Regions from separate parts of the Homo sapiens genome. Here region 1 is linked to region 2. The links come from fine-mapping of genetic effects on gene expression. A gene starts in region 2. The other region holds a variant in brackets. All regions are shown on one strand. Distances are from middle to middle. Region 1 overlaps LRP11 (LDL receptor related protein 11). Region 2 holds the start of PCMT1 (protein-L-isoaspartate (D-aspartate) O-methyltransferase).

Region 1 (2,907 bases), 93 kb after region 2:
TAAGAAAATACACGATGACCGAGTAACAGGATATTTAAATGTACAAGACCTTAGCACCTCTCCAGAAGTGAATTGTGTGTGTGGTGAGGGGTTCCCTCTACAATACTACAATATCTTTAGTGTCGCTAAGTTCCATGCAATGGATATTTTAAAAAATTTGATGACCTAATCTTTCTTAGACATGTAGACGTTGGGCTGGGCGCGGTGGTTCACGCCTGTAGTCTAAGTGCTTCGGGAGGCTGAGGCGGGTGGATCACCTGAGGTCAGGAATTCGAGACCAGGTTGGCCAACATGGTGAAACCCTGTCTCTACTAAAAATACAAAATTAGCAGGGCGTGGTGGTGCACACCTGTAGTCCCAGCTACTTGGGAGGCTGAGGCAGGAGAATCACTTGAACCCAGGAGGCAGAGGCTGCAGTGAGCCGAGACTGCACCACTGCACTCCCACTCCAGCCTAGGCAACAAGAGCAAAACTCCCTCTCAAAAAAAAAATGTAGATGTTTAGAAAAGTAAGAAACATAGATGAATGAAATAAGTTTTACATTGTTACATTGTACAACAGAATGTGAGAACCATCATATGTATTTAAAGTTATATTATTAATATAACTGCATCTGCGTAAAGTGTCTATGAAAATGTGTAGGTAGCACTTTCAAATTGATGGGTCCTTTGCGTATTTCAATTAATTTTAACCGTACTCCTTAGCTGCACTCTTTTTCTCTTTCTAAAATTTTTGAAGTGACTTATTATATCAGCAATTGATTACACCCAAGAGCCAAGTCTTTCTTCAATCCTGTGGTATGCCTTTTCCTTGTTTTTTTAATATGTATTTTTAATTGACAAAAGAGGAGAGTATATATTTATGAGGCACAATGTGATGTTTTGATATATGTTTGCATTGTGGAATGATTACATCAAGCTAACTGACATATCTATCATCTCCCCTACTTGTAATCTTTTTGTGATGACAACATTTAAAACCTACTGTTTTAGCAATTTTGAAACAGACAATACATTATCATTAACTATAGTCACCATGCTGTGCAACAGATCACCAGAACCTGTTCCTCCGGTCTCAGTGACACTTTGTACCCTTTGACCAGCGTCTCTCCTTTCCCAGTCCGTCCCCCGCACAGCCTCCAGTAACCGCCATTCCACTCTCTGCTTCCACGAGTTCAACTGGTTTCACTAAACTCCTTAGCTTCCCTCTTGGAACAGATGCAGCAAATGGACCATCCATCTGTAAACAAAGTCCTCTCCCAGAATAGCCAAGCAATTGTCTTTGATGAAGTCGAGTCAAGAGAAGCGGGAGCATCTCTTCTCATCCCCTGGAGTGCTTCCTCCACCCCAACCCAGTAGCATCGGCTAAGCCCAAAACAGAAGAGAGCCTGCTTTTGTTATTGTGTTTTTAGCAAAGACTCTCTCATTCAGCAATAACCAAAAATAAAATGGAAGAGCCCATGGAGCGCAGAGCCAGAGGACAAAGCGCCAACCCGACATTGCCTTCCACAAGCAGTGGGAAGCGAGGGAAGGACTTTCTTCTCACCTCCTGTGGAGTAGGCTGCGCGAAGCACTGTCACTGACACGTTGTCAGAGCTTCTCTGCCCGGCAGTGTCC[G/A]TCACGGTCAGCTGGAAGGTGTAGGTTCCCTCCTGTAGGTGGGACAGCTTCAGGGTTCCTGATTGAGGCACCTGCCACACAGATGGGACACATCACGTCGAGCAGCAGACTTGAGCTCCGAGCCCAACACCATCCTCAACCGAAAGTCCATGTCCTCAGAGCAGCCCCAGGACCTGCCTCTGCACTCCGGCCCGAGGCTGCTGAACTACATCACACACTGTTGGCAGCTGGCCCACCTTGAACTCATAAGTTCTAGTTTATTTAGGTGGCCAAGGCCTTGACTGACAATCCCTTCACTTGTCTGCAGCAGTTGCTGCTCCAAACCTGCACCTCATCCCCAGCCTCACGCTCAGGATCCAGGCCCTGCCGTCTCAGCAGGGGGACTCATCAGCTTCAGGGAGAAAATCAGGACCATGACTAGGGCTCCACCACCCACCTCCTCCTGGTACCCTACCTGTACCCACTGTCACTTCCTTCTGACAGCCAGCAGGGAGAAGCTGTCCCTCCTGTGTTCCAGGCCAACCCCTCCTTCTAGTCCTTGCCCCCTTTCTTTCTAGGACCTTTAGAACACTGACACATCGACTCATTTCTCTTTCAAATGGCTCTGCTATTACTATGCTCAAGTTTCTCTCATCCTAAGAAACAAACAAAACAACAAATAAAAAAAATTCCCTGAGCTCTAAGGGCTCACCAGCCACAGCCCCGCTTCCTTCCCATCTCCACTTGGCTCCCTGAAAGGCCTGGCTGTGCCGTGCTTGCTGTTTCTGTTTGCTCACTTCCCATTTAGTCTTCGCCCACCCAATGTAGCTGCTTTCCCCACCATCCCCCTGAAACAGTGCTGGCAAAACTCACTAACTGACCTAGCAAAAGTCTCCTAGGTGTCAAGACCAACAATACTATTTTTAAAAAATCCATGCTTGGTTGGGCACGGTGGCTCATGCCTGTAATCCCAGCACTTTGGGAGGCCAAGGCGGGCGGATGATGAGGTCAGGAGATGGAGACCATCTTGGCCAACATGGTGAGACCCCATCTCTACTAAAAATACAAAAATCAGCTGGGCATGGTGGCGTGCGCCTGTAGTCCCAGGTACTCGGGAGGCTGAGGCAGGAGAATCGCTTAAAACTGGGAGACAGAGGTTGTAGTGTGCCAAGATCACCCACTGCATTCCAATCTGCTGACAGAGCAAGACTCCATCTCAAAAAAAAAAAAAAAAATCCATGTTTAACTGGCCCTCTTACTGTATCTGGCCATGCTGGCCACTTTGGCTGTTTGAAAACCCCTGCTTCCTTGG
Region 2 (2,907 bases):
GCAGATCACGAGGTCAGGAGTTCAAGACCAGCCTGGTCAACATGGTGAAACCCTGTCTCTACTAAAAATACAAAAATATTAGCTGGGCATGGTGGTGCGTGCCTGTAATTCCAGCTACTCGGGAGGCTGCGGCAGAATTGCTTGAACCGGGACCTGGGAGGTGGAGGTTGCAATGAGCCAAGATCATGCCACTGCATTCCAGCCTGGGCTACAGAGTGAGACTCCGTCTCAATCAAAAGCAAAAAAACAAAAAGAAACCAGTTTTGCCTGTAGTTTCATTTATGGTCACATAATCCCAGAAAATAGGTAATGTTGATTTTGGATTGGAAGCAGGCCAGTGTCACATTTTACAAAATCGGATAAGAACTAGAATTTGAAAATTGTGCTGATATAGTGGCACAGATGTCTTAGCTTTGTTTCCTTCTAAAAGATTACTGGAGGCCGGGCGCTGTGGCTCATGCCTGTAATCCCAGCACTTTGGGAGGCCGAGGCGGGCGGATCATAAGGTCAGGAGATCGAGACCATCCTGGCTAACACGGTGAAACCCTGTCTCTACTAAAAATACAAAAAATTAGCCGGGCGTGGTGGCGGGTGCCTGTAGTCCCAGCTACTCGGGAGGCTGAGGCAGGAGAATGGCCTGAACCTGGGAGGCGGAGCTTGCAGTGAGCCGAGATCGCGCCACTGCACTCCAGTCTGGGCGACAGAGCGAGACTCCGTCTCAAAAAAAAAAAAAAAAAAAAAAAAAAAAGTTACTGGACTAGATGATGGCTGGATTCTGTCAGTCTCAGGTCTAATTAGGAGTCAGCGATTTGGACGCGACAAGCAATGTTCTCAGTGAGCTTCTCACTCATGGTCTTGCAGAGCTGAGAGCAATAAAGCCACGGTGGAATTTGTGAGGCTTAATTAGGTGGAAATGCACACTTACGTCGGGAGAATAACACGTTCACCAAAGGACACAGTGGTATTTTTTAACCAATCGCAACTCTGTACGTTGGTATTATTCTAAGGGAGCAAAGCTTTGCCCCAACCCCCACCCCCATGTCCTGGTACTCTTCCACTCTGAGAGCTTTAGAACCGGGGTTCCAAAGTCTCTGCTTAGCCTAACAGTGACGTGCTTGTCACAAAGCCAGAGGCCGGTGTACTCGGGTTAGAGAGGGCCTTTGTCGTTGGGTTTTATTCTTATTGTATTATTCGGGCTCCACCGACCCAAATATTAGTCAACTGGGTTGGGCGAGGTAGGACGGATGAAGCCCACCGTCTAACAATCTGGACATCTATAGGAGCAGATCCGCCGCTCGAAACAGCTGACCCAGCGACGACTGCGGAACCACTAGCAGCGTCTGCACAGATCGACCCCGCCATCCCGCCGTCCCGCTCGGTGACCGGAGACACAGCCGGGAACGCGACTGATCAGGCTACCGAGCCGGGCCGCAGGGCGAAAGCGGTGCGGTCCGAGGCCTCAGAAAGGGACACGCAGCAGCGGAAGTGGCGCTGACTCAGCCCGGCCTCCCTGCAGTCCCCTGGCAGCGGTAGCAGCCACAGGGGCGGGCGGCTGGGCCACACGCCTCCCCCGCCCTCGGCCCCACCCGGCCGCACCCTAAGCCGCGCGGCGTCACAGAGCGCATGCGTGCCGCGGGGGATGCCGGGAGCGCGCAGTGGCGGCAGCGGCGGCGACGGCAGTAACAGCGGCAGCTACAGCGGGGACGCGAGCGGGGCGGTGACGGTGTGGGAGGTGGTCTCACTCTTGGGAAAACTGCTGGGCACCGTCGTCGCGCTGAAGGTGGTTCTGTACCTGCTCCGAGTGTGCTTAGCGATGGCCTGGAAATCCGGCGGCGCCAGCCACTCGGAGCTAATCCACAATCTCCGCAGTAAGTGCCACCTCCGCCCGTTGTAGGGCAGCTGGGGCAGGCTGGGCCTGGACCGGGTCCCCCTGGGCCGTCCGGAACGTTCTGTCTGTCCCCGCGCGCCTGTTGGAGGGCTTCGGCGCAGAGTTGCCCCGGTAGTCCCGAACGGCGTGCGCTTGCAGTCGCCTCCCTCGGGACCTGTCACTCGTCGACGACGTGGACTGGAAGGGGAGAGAAAGAGCCAGGGGCCGCTGCTGGTGGGGGCAGGGGCAGTCGTCTCCCTGCAGGCCCTGGGGGAGGGAGTGCAGTACAGGTGATGCTGCTGTCACTCAGGTCCGCGTCCGGGTCCGGCTTGTGAGGGGCGTGCCTTCGGGGTGGGAGCGTGTGGGCTAGGCCTTATGGAGAGTGGGCTGGCGCTCAGGAGACCCCACCCTCGTCCCCTGCATTTTTCTCACCTTCCTCCTCCATAATCAACCTCGCTGCAAGCTTTCCCTCTTATGCAGCCTCCCCCGCCCTCCGTTTTTTCCCCTGGAGGGAGATGCCACCGTCTGATACAGGCGAGGGGAGGAAGATGAGAGTATTGCCATTGCAGATGCTGGGAGAAATTTCTCGGGCGGCTGTCCAGTGGAAAGCTCCGTGCGGGGCGGAGAAAGAACAGGGGATGCTGTTCCTGAGAGACTTGTATTTCAGGAGCCTTTGCAGGTCCTGGATCAGCAGAGGGTTGTGTGTCTGATGTTCTAACTTTTTTCAGGGCTACCATAGGCTTTAAAAACCTTATGTGGAGTTTCTTTATATCACTCTCCTTAGTTACTGTATTCCTTCTTCTGATGATAATTTTAGGATAGGATGAGTGCTGTGTCACTTTCTTTTTTTAAATCGAAATATAGCGTCCCCGTTTTGTTGGGAGACTACAAGGGCCGCAGTCTATAATAAACTCACTGGTCAGAATTTATAGCATTATTCGCTACTATGCAGTAATCATATCTTGTCACATGGTATTTTTAATTGTCCTGTGTTACTTAGCTTTTCATGTGTTTGTCTTATTTCTCAACTCGATTTGTAA

What was found. PIP is the estimated chance that this variant, and not a neighbour inherited with it, causes the effect.
Region 1: its variant is fine-mapped to the expression of PCMT1 in blood mononuclear cells (TOPMed, PIP above 0.99).

Annotation. Positions count from the first base shown.
Region 1 is chr6:149,841,438-149,844,344 of GRCh38, forward strand. It overlaps LRP11 (LDL receptor related protein 11), which reads right to left. Exons shown (of 7, transcript NM_032832.6): 3 at 1,546-1,687. It overlaps RAET1E-LRP11 (RAET1E-LRP11 readthrough), which reads right to left. Exons shown (of 15, transcript NR_182438.1): 11 at 1,546-1,687. Among named protein-coding and RNA genes, the nearest start is that of RAET1E-AS1, 21 kb to the right of the region's middle. The variant G/A (reference allele first, on the strand shown) is at 1,617.
Region 2 is chr6:149,748,089-149,750,995 of GRCh38, forward strand. It overlaps PCMT1 (protein-L-isoaspartate (D-aspartate) O-methyltransferase), which reads left to right and starts at 1,653. Exons shown (of 8, transcript NM_001360452.2): 1 at 1,653-1,868. The coding sequence starts at 1,814. It also overlaps a transcript of NUP43 not described here. RefSeq lists enhancers at 653-1,618, 2,584-2,907 and silencers at 1,403-1,792, 2,023-2,259, 2,185-2,479.